Regions from separate parts of the Homo sapiens genome. Here region 1 is linked to region 2. A link means that fine-mapping ties the variant in region 2 to the expression of a gene that starts in the linked region. Tissue or cell type: whole blood. Region 2 holds a variant in brackets; the other region holds the start of a gene. All regions are shown on one strand. Distances are from middle to middle.

Evidence for each region. PIP is the estimated chance that this variant, and not a neighbour inherited with it, causes the effect.
Region 1: MTCH1 starts here. The variant in region 2 is fine-mapped to the expression of MTCH1 in whole blood (INTERVAL, PIP 0.93).

The regions. Positions count from the first base shown.
Region 1 is chr6:36,981,962-36,990,289 of GRCh38, forward strand. It overlaps MTCH1 (mitochondrial carrier 1), which reads right to left and starts at 4,235. Exons shown (of 12, transcript NM_001271641.2): 1 at 3,892-4,235. The coding sequence starts at 4,212. RefSeq lists enhancers at 3,789-4,511, 4,630-4,839 and a silencer at 3,950-4,539.
Region 2 is chr6:36,940,974-36,949,301 of GRCh38, forward strand. It overlaps a transcript of PI16 not described here. Among named protein-coding and RNA genes, the nearest start is that of PI16, 9.6 kb to the right of the region's middle. The variant G/T (reference allele first, on the strand shown) is at 4,077.

The DNA of each region.
Region 1 (8,328 bases), 41 kb after region 2:
CCCAGTAGAGAAACCTCCATTTGTATGTACTGCAAACCCTACTCCCATCTCAGAACAAATCTCAGTTATTCTCATCTCCAGATGAAAAACTTCATTCCAACCTCAATTCCAAATGTGGCAATAAGAAAATACATCATACCCAAACCTCAGACAGGTCAGCCATTAAGTCATCTATTCCAAAGTGCACCCCAAACTCAAATTTCTTACCAAATCTACTGCAGACACCTCCATGTCTATTCCTCCCATTCCCAGGCTTAGCAAACTGTTACCTCAAATTCCAGCTACTCCTCAAACATATCCTTAGCTGCGTTCTCACCTCAATCACCCTACATCCCTGTGACAAAACGACCCCCTCATTTCTGTAGGGCTATGATAGTTCTTGCTGTACAGATGCTTCTTATATCTGAAATATTTATTTATTTATTTTTTTTTTTGAGATGGAGTTTCACTCTTGTTGCCCAGGATGGAGTGCAATGGCGTGCTCTCAGCTCACCGCAACCTCCACCTCCTCCACCTCCCGGGTTCAAGTGATTCTCCTACCCCAGCCTCCCAAGTAGCTGGGAATACAAGCACCCGCCACCATACCCGGCAAATTTTTTGTATTTTTAGTAGAGACGGGGTTTCTCCATGTTGGTCAGGCTGGTCTCGAACTCCCGACCTCAGGTGATCCACCCGCCTCGGCCTCCCAAAGTGCTGGGATTACAGGCATGAGCCACTGCGCCCAGCCTGAAATATTTATTAAACCCGCGGGTGGGTGAAGGACCATCCATATCCATGTGAGGAGCAGGAAGTCTCTGTCGAGGGGTGAGAGCCCCTGCTGCCAGGGAGGAGGCAAGGTGTCAAGGAGACCAGCACCTAGGTGGGGAGTGAGAAGGCTCCTTCCTCCCTTGGCAAGGGGCCAGGATACCAGCCCTGTGCCCTCTAAGCAGGCCAGCTGGGCCCATGGACCAGAGCGATTCCTCTGACATGTGGGAGAGGATTTGGCCTGCAGCTGTGGGAGGCAGTAGAAGTGGCAAGTTAGAAAGCGCTACCTTGTAAACTGGATTAGGTATGCTTCCAGTGCTTTTTGGGATCAACCCTGTCCCCTTTTGCCTTTATCAAGCAAGTGCTTTTCAAAGTTCAGGCTATCTCCTATGGATCTGATTCTGAGATGCCTAACAGATTAATGATTGTAAATTTAAAAACTCCTCTATGATGGGGACTGTCTTTAAAAGAAAAAAATTTTGACCCAGTGGAGCAAAGGAGGAAAGGGGTGAGTCAGCTGACCCAGGCAGTGAGTACTTCCCTTCTAGACCTTTTCCCTTCTGGGTTAAAAGCTCCAAGGTTGTTCTGAATTAAGTTTTGTCTTGATCTGTGTTCTCTTAAATACAGGTGGTATTCCTTTATTCCTCCACTCCAAATCGCCACAACTGCTCTTTTGCTGTCCTTATCCAGTTTAGTCAACACTATTTGGGAGTCCCACTGACCCCAATTTCATACTTAAATTTGTAACGTTATCCCATATCCCCATGGCTCCCAAATCTGTTGAATCTATTTTCTTAACTTCTATTGGGTTATCATAGGCACACTGGCTGTATCTCACCCCCATTCCTCCTGCCTTCAAGTTTTAATTATTTGTTCCCAAGTCATTAAACCCAATTTCAACCTCAAATCTGTTAACCCAGTCCTAACTACGGCAAATGCTGTGGCCCTATATCAGATACCAGCAGGGACAGTCTGTCATCTTAAAATCTCCGACTCCCAAACCTGACAGCCACATGCACTAATCTAAGGCACTGCATTCTTACGCACCTAATCTAGACAATCCCCAAATCTGTCACTCCACTCCTGACACCCCCACTCCCAGTAATTTGCCTTTCTGCAAGTTATTACTCTGATTCCCAAACTATACCCATTGAAGATCTTACCCTAATATATGTTACACTCAACACCAGCTGGGTTCAAATCAGACAGGCACCTCTGGTCCTTCAACAGGGCTCATCCATCCTTACCTGCCCACCATCTAGTTCTTCTCACGCTTTGGTGTCCTTCATTCCCCCATTCCCTTCCCAAACCACCCTCATTTCAATGTTCTTTCAAACCAGATCTGCCATCATCCAAATGATGAAGCCACTTCTTCATTTCCCTCACACTGAGCCCTTGTGCTCCAGTATCCTTCACTCCACAGACTCTCCCACCTGTGCCCTAAAATCCTAGCCCTCACTCAGTCTCATTCCATCAGTTTCCAGAACCCTCACTTCTCAGGTCCAAAGCACCAATTTATCTCCCAAACTTCAAGTTCAACTGCTGTAAATACAATCTTAACCCTGTAAGACAGCCCTCATTCCCAAATCACAACCAAATGCCAGTCTGGTCTACACCTTCCGCCATCAACAATTTTCAAATCTGTCACAATTAGGGTCTAGTCAGGCACCTTGATGCCCCTGACTGAATCTCCTCATTCCTTGTCATATTCCTGGTCACACCCACAAATCTATTACCATTCCTCGGATCCCAGATTTCAATTACTCTCATTCTCAAGGCCTTCTCATTCCAGTTGTATTTTGCATTCTCTCGGTTCAATTATAAAGATGGTAAAATCTGACACCCACCTGCCTCAACTCAAATCTTGGATGGGTCTCCAATTCAATTTTTACCTTCCTCCCCCCAAGCTTCTTAACTGGAAAATTCTGGCCTAATGACCCCCATCAAAACTGTACCCATCCCAGCCACACCCACCTAATTCTCACACCTCCACACGCCCTTCATTCCAGCTCACTCCTCAAGCAGCACACTTCATCTGTACCGCATTGCTGGCCACCACCAAATCTGCCAAGTGCCTATGCATCCCTCTGTTCCAGAGACATCCCTACCTCGGTCTCAATTTCTGGTAGTCCCTACCTATCCTGCCACCTATGTCTCCACTGTCCCTTCTGCCCAATTTCAATACTCCCGTGCCCCTTCTCCTCATCTGCCCAGATACAAGCACTGTGATTCCTCTCTCTGACCCCAACTATGACTTCCATTTCCTCCTCCAAATGCGTCATCCCCCTTCCCCGCTTAAAGCCTCCTCCTAGCTCCCCTCTCTAGACAAATCGCTGCCACTCCCCTCCCCCAATGCTGGCCCTATCTGTTCCCCTCCCCCCATACGCGTCACCCTGTCCCCTCCTCCTACCAAATCCGTCGTCGCCATCAAATCCAGAGCCCCCATCTCCGGTAAACCGATAGCATTCCCCTGCAAAAGTCTTTGCCTTCGCACTCTCCCACCAAATTAAATCACAATGCAACCCAAGACCTCCGTCTCCTCTGTCCACCCCCAGTCTGGTGTCCTTCTTTCCCTCCTAAATTTCTGGCCCTGGCGCCCACTTTGTCCCCACCCCAAGACGTTTTAAATCCATCTCTATCAAATCCAGAGCCTCCGTTCCCCTCTACCCCAATTATGTGCTCCTCATTCTCTAAACACTTTGCCTGGGCCCCCAACCTTCCTCCCCATCTCTTCACCCAAACTTCTTGCCCCTCCCCCAATTCTATTGCTTCTTCCCTCGCCCCAAATTCGCTCCCTTCCCTATCCCAAGTCCATCGTCCCCACTCCTTTATCTCCCAAATATGTTTTTCCAGCCCATCGCTCCCTCCTTGGCACTCCCCCAAATCGCTTGTTCCTTCCACCCTCTCCCGTATCTGTTATTACTCTAACCCCTTGGTCTCCTTTCTGTATCCTAAAACCCGTGACCCCTGCGTTCCCAACTCCCTCACGGCTTCCCTCCCATCCCACCCACTCGGCCCCCCAAACCCGCCGTCCCCACCCCTCTCCCCAAATCCGTCGCCATTGACTGCCCGCCCCAATCCTCCAAATCCTGGCCTGTCACCTTCACATCAGCCTCCCATCTCCCTACGGCGCCTCTGGTCCCCCACCTGGATGAGCAGCTTCACGTAGAGCAGGGGATGGCTGAGCGCCGTCACGCCCGCGCCCAGTGCCACGAAAAGAGCCTCAGTGGTCGGGGCGTTGTCCCCAGACCCCAGGCCCCCTGACCCGCCATCCATCCTGCGGGCCGAGGGCTGAGCCGCAGGCCGAGGGTGGCGAGGATGTGCGCGGTGCGCGGGCGGTGGATCGCGAGCTCGAGCCTCGACCCCCGCCGCCGCTCCGCCGCGAGCTCCGGCTCCAGCTCCGGCTCCCGCCATCCCCGCGGCACCGCCGCGAGCCCAGGGCGCCACTTCCGGGTCCGAAGCTCCCATGGCGCCCGGCGGCGAGGTCACTCCCCGTCACGTGACGGGGCCACGCCCCCTCACCGGCGTCAGGGGGCGGGGCCGGGGCGCACCACTCCAGGCCGCGGGGGAGCTCGGGAGCGTGGTGCGGCGGGTGGGACACGCCGGATGTGGCTCCCCGGCCGGTTGGAGGCCTAGCAGGACACTGGGCTGCGGGCCGGGGGTCAATGGTGGCGGGCAGCCGGGGCCCCGGGCTCGGGAGCTGTGGCGGCAGCCGCAGGCCGGGGCGCTCCCCCGGGATGCCCAGAGCACGCGGGGGCGGGGTTCGGCGCCTCTGGCTGCCAGACGTCCCCAATATGGTCTGAGGCGCTTCCAAGCCACCTCCCTGGCTTCGGGAGTTTTCTCTGCAGTTCTCTGCCCGCCCCTTTGCGGCCCAGATCCCAGTCGCCGCGGCCTGCGTGGAACTCTGCGCGAGCTGAATCTCCTGCTGCAGGACGAGCCCCGACCCCGAGCCCGATCCCCTCCGCGGTCCCAGCCTCTTTGTCCGATCGCATTTTCCATCTCCTCTGCCAGGAATGCTCTCCCAACCAGAGCAAATCCAGATGTCCCCTCGGCGACTGTGGGCACCCTCCCCAGCTGTGGAGCCTTCGCACGCCTTCCTCAGAGTCCGTGGTTGTAAAATTTGTTTTGCTCTAAAGTATTTGACTGTCTCCCTCACTAGATCCTGAGGGTTTTAGTGAGTGCCTCAGTGTGAGCACATGCAGGCACTGCTAGGCGCCTGTAGTTGATTCTTAGTTAATACAAGTGAATAATCACAACTAGACCTTAAATTGCAGGGACTATGTGACAGGCACTTTTTAAAATGCTTTATACGTGTTGATTTAAGTGTAATCGTCACAAGAACCCTGCGAGGAAGATAGGACAGCAAGTGCCCTGTTCCTGTTTGTAAACGTGCCCGACACTCTGCAACAACACCTACAACAGAACCGTGCTAGTTTTGGGGGTTCGCAATAAAAGTTTCTGTTTGAACGGATCCTAGAGTGTGCAGGGACACAGCAATGGAAGACCTGGTCCCTTTGTCTGTACTTAGTCTATAGCCAGTTCATTGTGAGAAATTTCTTTAGATCGACACCTGCCACTGTTAGTCCGGGTTTCCCAGTCTGTCCTTTCTAACTCCCTTCCTGCCTTACCCCCTAAAAAGCTACCTCCCCTCTTCCCACTCCTGATAATGAACACTATGTACTTTCCACGTTCAAAGCATGCCACACTCCCTCTCTCCCTCACCTTGGCCTCCCTAACCCAGGCTTGTCCTAGTGAAATCACTTGCAAAGCCTGCTAACCCTTTCAACTTGCTGTGTTTTCTCCATCAAACACAATTTTCATCAAACATCCCCCAGGAGCACCTTAAATGACTTCCTTTTGCCTAGGTTCTGATTTAGCTTTCTCAATAAGGACCTCAAAGTCAAGTTCCTAGTGCCACACTAACTCTCTACCCAGAAGAGGCGATAGGTTTTAGTTTGGGGGTGGGGGGTGGGGGTAGGGGAGGATGATTTACTTCCCCATCCTTCTGAAACTTCCTCACAGGAACCTTTTCCTTCTTTGGGCTTTTCGTCCCCATTTTTCTCCAACTGTCTGTTTTTCTTTCTGAACTTGGCTGTTCACCGTTGAGCCTTTTACTCTGCCTTACATGGTCACCTAACTTTGGGCCTATACTGTATTTGGCCCTTTCAAACTGTAGTTTCATGTGAAGCAGCAACTTTGTGTTGTCTTGCATTGTTTTGTATCTTCCACAACATCAGATATAGGACTATGCACATAGTACATGTTCAGTAAAGTATTTCTAAATGATCGAACAATTTCTCCAAGTGAAGAAATTGAAGGAAAAATAGATCAGCTAAACCAGTTAGACCCGTAGGGTACCAAGCAGAAGCAAATGTTAAACTGCACAATAGCTGTATTTCTACAACTCAGGGCTCACAGAGACTCCAAGAGGAAGAAAAAAAGAATCCTCACAATAAAAAATGTATGAGCCGCTCAAAGAAACGTGCCATCATGAGAGAGAATGGGCAAAACAGGAAGAACTTGAGATAATAGAACCATCTCAAAGAAAATTAAAAGGAAAGAAGTAGGTTTCAAATGAAGGCAAAGATAAATAATAGGAAGTACTAGTAAAAAGAACAGGAATTGTAAAGGAAAAAAAAAAACAGGTGTATTTGAAAAGGTGCCAAACAGAACATCTAGAAATGAAAAGTATACTCACTGAAATGATTGAATGAAAGAAAATCTTCCTCAGCAGTCAAGCTACTGAGCAACCTGGCAATAAACCTTTAGAGCTATAAAGGAGTTAGCTCTGGCCAGGCGCGGTGGCTCACACCTGTAATCTCAGCACTTTGGGAGGCCGAGGCGGGTGGATCACCTGAGGTCGAGACCAGCCTGGCCAACATGGTGAAACCCCGTCTCTACTAAAAATACAAAAATTAGCTGGGCATGGTGGCGCATGCCTGCAGTCCCAGCTACTCGGGAGGCTGAGGCAGGAGAATCAGTTGAACCCAGGAGGCACAGGTTGCAGTGAGACGAGATCACGCCACTGCACTCCAGCCTGGACGATAAGAGTGAAACTCCATCTCAAAAAAAAAAAAAAAAGGCTGTAAGCTCTGGGCTTGGGTAGTGCCCCCCACTTCGGTGCCACCACCCTCTGCATATGCCACCTCACATATGCAGTGCTGACCACACTGCACTGTGACTGCCTGTTTTCTTGTCAGTCTCCCTTGTTAGACTGTAAGCTCTTTGACAGCCAGGACTGTTCTATTCATAGTTGAACCCCAAGCCTGGCTCAATGCCTGGCACATGATAGGAACACAACAAATATTACTAGAAAATGAATGACTGAGCAAAAACACTCTCCAAAATTGTACAGTTTTTTATGGTAGCACTAATTACAGAATCAAAACTTTAGGAAGATCCATGTGCCCGATAGGATCAAGCAAAAGGAAAAAAGTTAACAGGAAATAAGACTCGTAGATCTTGAGAACTGCCAAGAATACAGACCATCCCAGGTCCCTGGAATCCTGTGGGATATGTTGTAATGAAAAGTAAATGCAAATTAGTAAGTACCCACCATTGCAATTAATTTGACATCATACTGATCCAGTCAGGAGGGAACTAAGGTGATGTCAAGGGCGGCATCAGAGTTCTGGCCTCACCTGATGTTTTCTGCTGTTAACAGAATACTACAGACTGGGTAAGTTATAAAAAAAGAAACTTATTTCTCACAGTTCTGGAGGCAGAGAAGTCCAAAAACGTGGCATCAGCGTCTGGGGAGGGTCATCCCATGGCAGAAGGTGGAAGGCGGAGTGAGCACACTAGACAGAGAGATCAAACGGGGGCTGAACTTGTCCTTTTTTCTGAAGCCCATTCTTGAGATCACTAATCCACTCCTGAGATAGGAGCATTAATCTCCTCTTAAAGTTCCCATCGTTAATACCATTACATTGACAGTTAAATTTCAACTTGAGTTTTGGCAGGAACATTTAAACCATAGCTCCAGGGAAGGTGCACAAGGTGTAAGGAGAATCAACCTTGGTGTAAAGAAGATGGGCTCATTTCGATGTAGGATTCCTGTTTACTAGTTTTGGGTGAGAACTAGTTCCGGTTGCTGCCTCTGATCACCTGCTTGTCTGGGGTGAGGGCGAGGTGGGAGTGGAAACACTGGCTTTTCTTCTGTCTTGGATCCCTGGGGTCCCACCCTCAGACATCAACCCCACCCAGAAGCCAAGCTGCAAAAGGAGCCGACTTTAGGTCCTGGTTCCAATTCCACTTGCCTCTGCCTCTCCCCACCCTCTTAAAAAGAAAACAACAAGGCTGGGCGTGGTGGCTCACGCCTGTAATCCCAGCACTTTGGGAGGCCGAGGTGGCTGGATCACCTGAGGTCAGGAGTTTGAGACCAGCGCTGGACCAACATGGAGAAACCCCGTCTCTACTAAAAATACAAAATTAGCCGGGCATGGTGGCGCATGCCTGTAATCCCAGCTACTCGGAAGGCTGAGGCAGGAGGATCGCTTGAACCCGGGAGGCAGAGGTTGCGGTGAGCCAAGATCATGCCATTGCTCTCCAGCCTGGGCAACAAGAGCAAAACTCCATCTAAAA
Region 2 (8,328 bases):
AAAGAACAAACCACTCTCACTCTCACTCTCACTCTGCCTCTCCCTCTCCCCACGGTCTCCCTCTCCCTCTCTTTCCACGGTCTCCCTCTGATGCCGAGCCGAAGCTGGACTGTACTGCCGCCATCTCTGCTCACTGCAACCTCCCTGCCTGATTCTCCTGCCTCAGCCTGCCGAGTGCCTGCAATTGCAGGCGCGCGCCGCCACGCCTGACTGGTTTTAGTATTTCTTTGGTGGAGACGGGGTTTCACTGTGTTGGCCGGGCTAGTCTCCAGCTCCTAACCGCGAGTGATCTGCCAGCCTCGGCCTCCCGAGGTGCCGGGATTGCAGATGGAGTCTCATTCACTCAGTGCTCAATGTTGCCCAGGCTGGAGTGCAGTGGCGTGATCTCAGCTCGCTACAACCTCCACTTCCCAGCTGCCTGCCTTGGCCCCCCAAAGTGCCGAGATTGCAGCCTCTGCCCGGCTGCCACCCCGTCTGGGAAGTGAGGAGCATCTCTGCCTGGCCACCCATCGTCTGGGATGTGAGGAGCCCCTCTGCCTGGCTGCCCAGTCTGGGAAGTGAGGAGCGCCTCTTCCCAGCCGCCATCCCGTCTAGGAAGTGAGGAGCGTCTCTGCCCGGCCGCCCATTGTCTGAGATGTGGGGAGCGCCTCTGCCCCGCCGCCCAGTCTGGGATGTGAGGAGCGCCTCTGCCCAGCCACGACCCCGTCTGGGAGGTGAGGAGCGTCTCTGCCCGGCAGCCGCCCCGTCTGAGAAGTGAGGAGCCCCTCCGCCCGGCAGCCGCCCCGTCTGGGAAGTGAGGAGCGTCTCCGCCCGGCCAGCCGCCCCGTCCGGGAGGGAGGTGGGGGGCAGCCACCGCCCGGCCAGCCGCCCCGTCCGGGAGGTGGGGGGCGCCTCCGCCCGGCCGCCGCCCCATCCGGGAGGTGGGGGGCGCCTCTGCCCGGCCGCCCCTTCTGGGAAGTGAGGAGCCCCTCTGCCCCGCCGCCACCCCTTCTGGGAGGTGTACCCAACAGCTCATTGAGAACGGGCCATGATGACAATGGTGGTTTTGTCGAATAGAAAAGGGGGAAATGTGGGGAAAAGAAAGAGAGATCAGGTTGTTACTGTGTCTGTGTAGAAAGAAGTAGACATGGGAGACTCCATTTTGTTCTGTACTAAGAAAAATTCTTCTGCCTTGGGATGCTGTTGATCTATGACCTTACCCCCAACCCGGTGCTCTCTGAAACATGTGCTGTGTCCACTCAGGGTTAAATGGATTAAGGGCGGTGCAAGATGTGCTTTGTTAAACAGATGCTTGAAGGCAGCATGCTCGTTAAGAGTCATCACCACTCCCTAATCTCAAGTACCCAGGGACACAAACACTGCGGAAGACCCCAGGGTCCTCTGCCTAGGAAAACCAGAGACCTTTGTTCACTTGTTTATCTGCTGACCTTCCCTCCACTATTGTCCTATGACCCTGCCAAATCCCCCTCTGCGAGAAACACCCAAGAATGATCAATTAAAAAAAGAAAAAAAAGAAAAAGAAAAAACACCCTAGAGAAAGAACATAGCACTAGTCCCAGCATGGTGACTCATGCCTGTAATCCCACACTTTGGGAGGCTGAGGCAGGAGGGTAACTTGAGCCCAGAAGTTCAAGACCAGCCTGGGCAACATAGCAAAACCCCATCTCTATAATTTTTTTTTAAAAAATTAGCTGGGCATAATGATGAATGTCTCTAATCCTGCCTAACTGGGAGGCTGAGCCCAGGAGTTGAAGGCTGCAGTGAGCCATGATCACACCCCTGTACTCTAGCCTGGGTAACAGAGTGAAATCTCGTCTCAAAAACAAAATGAAACACAAACCACATAGCACCTTTGGCTACAGAGGATTCTATCAGATACAATACCACCGAAATAAGCAGGCAATAAAAAATTATAAAACACAAAAGGATATCCTCTAGTATGAGAATTAATAGACACAATAGGATGGCTAAAACCAAGAATTTCAGATAAAACAAAATCTAAAAAAACAATATAAAAGTAAGCCTAGGACAATTTAAAAATAAAGAGAACTGTTTAAAACTAGAGAGAAAGACTTTGAAAAAAATATTTAAAGTTACTAAAGGTATGCCTAGAAACAAATCACTGAAATTTACAATTCAATCATTTTGTAACCACCAGGTCATCAGAAGTTAGAAAAAATGGCAATAACAAGTGTTGCTAAGGATATGGAGCAATGAGAACTCACTTCACACACTCCTGGCTAGGGGTGCGATTTGGAAAAACACGCATCACCTAGTAAGTTGAAGGTGCCCATAACCTCTTATCCCCGCACAATTCTGCTTTTGTGCATTTAGATAAATACCCTAGAGACTCTTGCCCTTGTGTAGTAAGAGCTGCACAAGAATTTTTATAAAAGTGTAATCATTCAGAACTGGCTTCAGCACTAAAGAAGAAAGGTATAATCAACAAGAAATTTTAAAGAATGTAGTATAGTCACACAATGCAATACTGTATAGCAAGGGAAAAGAATAAAGATACCAATTTGGATGCATCTCAGGAATAAAAAAAAAAAAAAAGAACAAACCAAAGAAAGAGAGAGAAAGAAAAAAGAGAGAAAAAGAAAACAGAAAGAAGGAAACAGTGAGAGAGAGAAAGAGGAGAAAAAGAAGGAAAGAATGAAAGGAAGGAAGGAAAAGAAGAAAGAGAAAGAGAGAAAGAAGGAAGGAAGGGCCGGGAGCGGTGGCTCACGCCTGTAATCCCAGCACTTTGGGAGGCTGAGGCAGGCAGATCACAAGGTCAGGAGATTGAGACCACAGTGAAACCCCGTCTCTACTAAAAATACAAAAAATTAGCCGGGTGTGGTGGCTGGCGCCTGTAGTCCCAGCTACTCGGAGAGGCTGAGGCAGGAGAATGGCGTGAACCCAGGAGGTGGAGGTTGCAGGAGCCAAGATCGCGCCCCTGCACTCCGGCCTGGGCGACAGAGCGAGACTCTGTCTCAAAAAAAAAAAAGAAAAAGAAAGAAAGAAAGAAAAGAGGAAGGAAGGAAGGAAGGAAAAGAAAAGAAAGAGAAGAGCCAGGCGCAGTGGCTCACGCCTGTAATCCCAGCACTTTGGGAGGCCGAGGCGTGCGGATCACGAGGTCAAGAGATAGAGGCCATCCTGGCCAACATGGTGAAATCCTGTCTGTCACTAAAAATACAAAAATTAGCTGGACATGGTCATGTGCGCCTGTAGTCCTAGCTACTCGGGAGGCTGAGGCAGGAGAATCGCTTGAACCCGGGAGGTGGAGGTTGCAGTGGGCCAAGATCACACCACTGCACTGCAGCCTGGTGACAGAGTGAGACTCCATCTCAAAAAAAAAAAAAAAAAAAAAAGGAAAGAAAGAAAGAGAAAGAAAATAAAGAAAGAAAAAGGGAAGGAGGGAGGGAGAAGGGGAAGTCCAAGACAGGTGTGAAAACCCGAGAAGGGGTCAGTTTCCAGGTGAGGGGTCAGCCTGGGTGCAGGGGAAGAGGCACCTGCCTAGTGGGCGTAAGGAATGGAGGGCTGGTACTTTCTTCTCCATGACCCCCTTGCTCAGAACGACCTATTTTCAGCATTTTGTGCAGACTGGCTTCCATCCATGCACCTTAGGCATTGTTCTCTGATGCTATCTGAGGCACTTGTCTGTCCTTTAAAATAGTCTCTGCATTTTTCAGATGACTGCTACCCCTGGTTTGGAGTTTGCTGTGATAGAACTAAAGTAAAATTTCTTAGTGACTCCACTGTTGCCGTGCCATCAAGCATCTGGGACTGGAAAAGCCGGGTTGCTCGGGTGGTTTGGATTCAGTGCCGCTGATCTTTTGTTTCCATGAGAACACAGAATGTGGCCAACCAGCAATCTGGTCTGACCTTGATGCCTAAATTCTAATGAAAGAGCAAGTTGAACTATAATGGTGAGAATGGAAACTAAGAACATTCTATCCAAAATGTTTGAGAAAGCCTTGTGACCAAAGGTGAGTGACTCAGAGTTTCTCTAAGACCCTGAAATGGGTGATAACGTCATGTCTAACCTTGGGAATTGGCTGAGTAAATCTCAGTACAGCTGCTCTATGGAAGGT[G/T]TGCAAACCTTGTAAGTGGTGGTTATAAAGATATGGAGCAAGTTGGAGAAATTATTTATAATAAATTATCTGGGGAAAAAAGTCAGGACTCAATATGGTGCAGGTGCGGTTGTTTCATTAAGGCAAGAAGATGCTAAGATTGCTTCTCAAACTGTCAGTGGTGATTGACCAGTTTGATTTTATAAAATTTCCAATCCATCCCAAATGTAAAGTTTTGTAAAATATCGTAAAAATAAATGATTAAATGTATATCCATCAAAGGACTTGTATCTAAAATACATAAAGAACTCTCAAAACTCAACAGAAAAAAAATCCAAATAGAACTAGAAGACACGAACAGACAGTCCACCAAAGAGGATATGTGGGTTGCAGAAAACACAGGAAAAGATGTTCAAAATCATTACCTATTAGGAAAATGAATGTCCATTTCCTGGTTTGGGTATTGTATTATTGTTATATAAGATGTCATCATTGGAAGAATCTGGGTAAACAGCTCATGGGATTTTACGTACTTTTTTCGTGATTTCCTGTGAGTCTATTATTATTTCAAAATAAAAAGTTATCAGGCCAGGCTTGGTGGCTCATGCCTGTAATCCCAGCTCTTTGGGAGGCTAAGACGGTGCAGGTGCAGATCACCTGAGGTCAGGAGTTCGAGAACAGACTAGCCAACATGGTGAAACCCCGTCTCTACTAAAAATACAAAAATTAGCTGGGCGTGGTGTTACACCCCTGTAATCCTAGCTACTCGGGAGGCTGAGGCAGGAGAATTGCTTGAACCGGGGAGGCAGAGGTTGCAGTGAGCAGAGATTGTGACACTGCACTCTAGCCTGGGTGACAGAGCGAGACTTGGTCTCAAAAAAAAATAATAAAATAAATAAATAATAAAAATGAAATGAAAAGCAGATACATGAAATACAAGCCCAACTTTTAAATCATAGATTCAACAGGCAGAAAACAACCATGTCCAATTGCTGTAAGAGTTTCTAAACATTTACTCTCATTTTCTGGGCCTGTTGTGCTGAAAAACAGTGGCGAATCTCTGGCAGACCAGCACCGGGCCGTGGACCACACTTTGAGTGGCTGTGGACCACCTGCTCAGACGAGAAGCAAATGCCAGAGATGGAATTATTTTTTTTTCCTTTTTGGCTTATTTTTTTGTTATGGAGTTATACTGCTGTTCAAAATAAAACTTGATTTAAAATATACAGAAATAATAATACAGAAGAAAATCTATTTTCCCCAAGTCTGGGTTTATGGATAAAACACACCGTCTACTCTGATGCTGCCTTCTCTTTCTCCCTCTCACCCTCCCCTAACTTCACCTCTTCCATTCCTCTCTCTCCTCCATGTGCTTGCCTTAACTGCCCTCTTTTCCTAGTGGCAGGTCCCTGGCTCTGGTCCCACCACTTTGTCACTATTCCAGACCCTCCCCGACCTATACTGGGGAAATCACTTACCTTTCTGAGCATCAGTCTCCTTATGCGGGGTGACAGTGAGACTCACCTTGGAGAGCTATCCTGTGAGGAGTGGGTGAGGTCACTCAAATGGGAGAAGCTCTGTGAACCACGTATAAGTGTGCACACGCAGAGTGGACTCTGTCTGCACACCTGGGTCCCCACATGCGCTGGCTGGCTCTGGTCAGCCTCCCAGTCTTCATTCCCATCTCACCCAACCCTCTCAGGCAAGCCAGGTGTCTCTGCTTCCAACCAAATGCCCTTCCCAGGAGGCCTCCCCAGCCCACATCCTGGCAACACTCAACCAGTGCCCCTGTCCCTCAGAGAGGGGTGTGTCCTCCCTTTCTACCTAGGAGCTCTCCCAGGCCAAGGCAGTCCTCCCCAGGGTAAAAGCCAAGTCAGGTTGCTGTATTTTTTTTCTTTGCTATAGCCTCAGGCTATGCAAACTTTTCCACCTGTTATATATAACAGGTGGAAGATATATAATAACAAATACAGTAAGTTCTCACTTAAGTTGCTGATAGACTCTTGGAAACTGCAACTTTAAGGGAAACAAAACCAATTTTACCATAGGCTAATTGATATAAATGAATAGAATTCCTGTGACATATTTCTGGTGACAAAAACATCACCAAACTTCTAAAGATCAAAACACTTCTAATATTAAACACTGAAATGAATGTAAGCTATACATACATTTAAGAAAAATTAAGAAAAACAAGATAATTAGGCCAGGTGCACTGGCTTACGCCTGTAATCCCAGCACTTTGCAAGGCCCAGGTGGGTGGATCACCTGAGGTCAGGAGTTCGAGACCGGCCTGGCCATCTTGGTGAAACCTCATCTCTACTAAAAATACAAAAGTTAGCTGACTGTGGTGGTGGGCACCTGTAATCCAGCTACTCAGGAGGCTGAGGCACAAGAATCACTTGAACCCAGGAGGTGGCGGTTGCAGTGAGCTGAGATTGTGCCACTGCACTCCAGCCTGGGTGACAGAGCGAGACACTCTCTCGAAAGAAAGAAAGAAAGAGAGAGAGAGAGAGAGAGAAAGAAAAAAGAAAGAAAGAGAAAGAAAGAAGAAAGAAAGAAAAACAAGATAATTATTTACCCAATTATTCCAGTTCAGGGTCGTGGGTGGCTGGAGCCCATCCTGGCAGCTCAGGATGCCAGGTGGGAACCTACCCTGGACAGGACATGGTGCTCACACACCCACACTCACTCGTGCTGGGACCATGCAGACTCACCAATGAGCCTAGCGTGCACAGCTTTGGGACATGGGAGAAAACCCACGCAGACGTGGGGAGAATGCAAACACCACGCAGACAGTGGCCCCTGCAGGAATCGAATTTTTCTCTTACCAATGTCATGACAAAAAGACATGGAATGAAATGACGTTATTCAAGGACCTGCTGTATGTGAATACTGGCTAACTCAATGAGCACTTACTATGTTCCAGGGATGATCACAGGCCCTACCCATGTACTAACTCATTTAATGCTCACAACCATCCTAGGAGGTAGGTTCTGTTCTAAGCCCCAGTGTACAGATGTGGAAACAGGCCAGTGAGCAGAGAAATCACCTGCCCCAGGCCACCCAGCCGGTAAGCCCCACACTCTCATCCACAACACTGCCTGTGGTTGCTGGTTGGTTTCCTGCTGTTGTTCACCCAGCTCAGCGCCTGGCACAATGAGAGGCTCTGTAAGCCTTTGTTGAGTGAATGAATGCTGCCCATTGTCCTGCATCTACGGAGCTGTTTTCCTTGCTATTGAAGGGGCATGACTGGAGGCAGAGGCCACAGAGATGACCACACCAGGGCAACCTGTAGTGCCAGTGCCTGGTTCCACCCGGGGGGCATCTGAGAACTGTGTCCTTCCATTCCTGAGTCCAGCACTTCCCAGGCCAGGTCAGCACTTTAATTCCTTGGGAAGTCTGTTTTTATTTTATTTTATTCATTTTAATGTTTTAAAAGTTTTTAGAAATAGAGAAAGGGTCTCACTTTGTTGCCTAGGCTGGTCTCAAAGTTCTGGGCTCAAGCAATCGCCCACCTCCACCTTCCAAAGTGCTGGGATTACAAGCCTGAGCCACCACGCCCAGCTCTGTGTTTCTTTCTTTTTTTTTTTCCTTCCTTCCTCCTTCCCTCCTTCCTCCCTCCCTCCTTCCCTCCTTCCTCCCTCCCTCCTTCCTCCCTCCTTTCCTTACTGTCTCCCTTTCTCTCTCGCTCTCTCTCTCTCCCCTTCCTTCCCTTCCTTCTCTCCCTTCCCACCCTCCCTTCCCTTTCTTTCTTTCCTTTTTTGTTTTTGTTTTTGTTTTTGAAACAGAGTCTCACTCTGTCACCCGGGCTGGAGTGCAGTGGCGCGATCTCGGCTCACTGCAACCTCCGCCTCCTGGGTTCAAGCGATTATTCTGCCTCAGCCTCCCAAGTAGCTGGGACTACAGGCGTGTGCCACTACGCCCAGCTAATTTTTGGATTTTTAGTAGAGACAGGGTTTCACCATGTTGGTTGGCCAGGATGGTCTCAATCTCTTGACCTCGTGATCCACCCCCAAAGTACTGGGATTACAGGTGTGAGCCACCGCACCCAGCCTTATTTTCTTTTTCTCTCTCTCCTCTCTTCTCTCTCTCTCTCTTCCTCTCTTTCTTTCTTCTCACTGGAGTCTTGCTCTGTCGCCCAGGCTGGAATGCAGTGGCGTGATCTCTGCAACCTCCGCCTCCCGGGTTCAAGTGATTCTCCTGCCTCAGCCTGCCAAGTAACTGGGCCTACAGGCACACACCACCACACCTGGCTAATTTTTGTATTTTT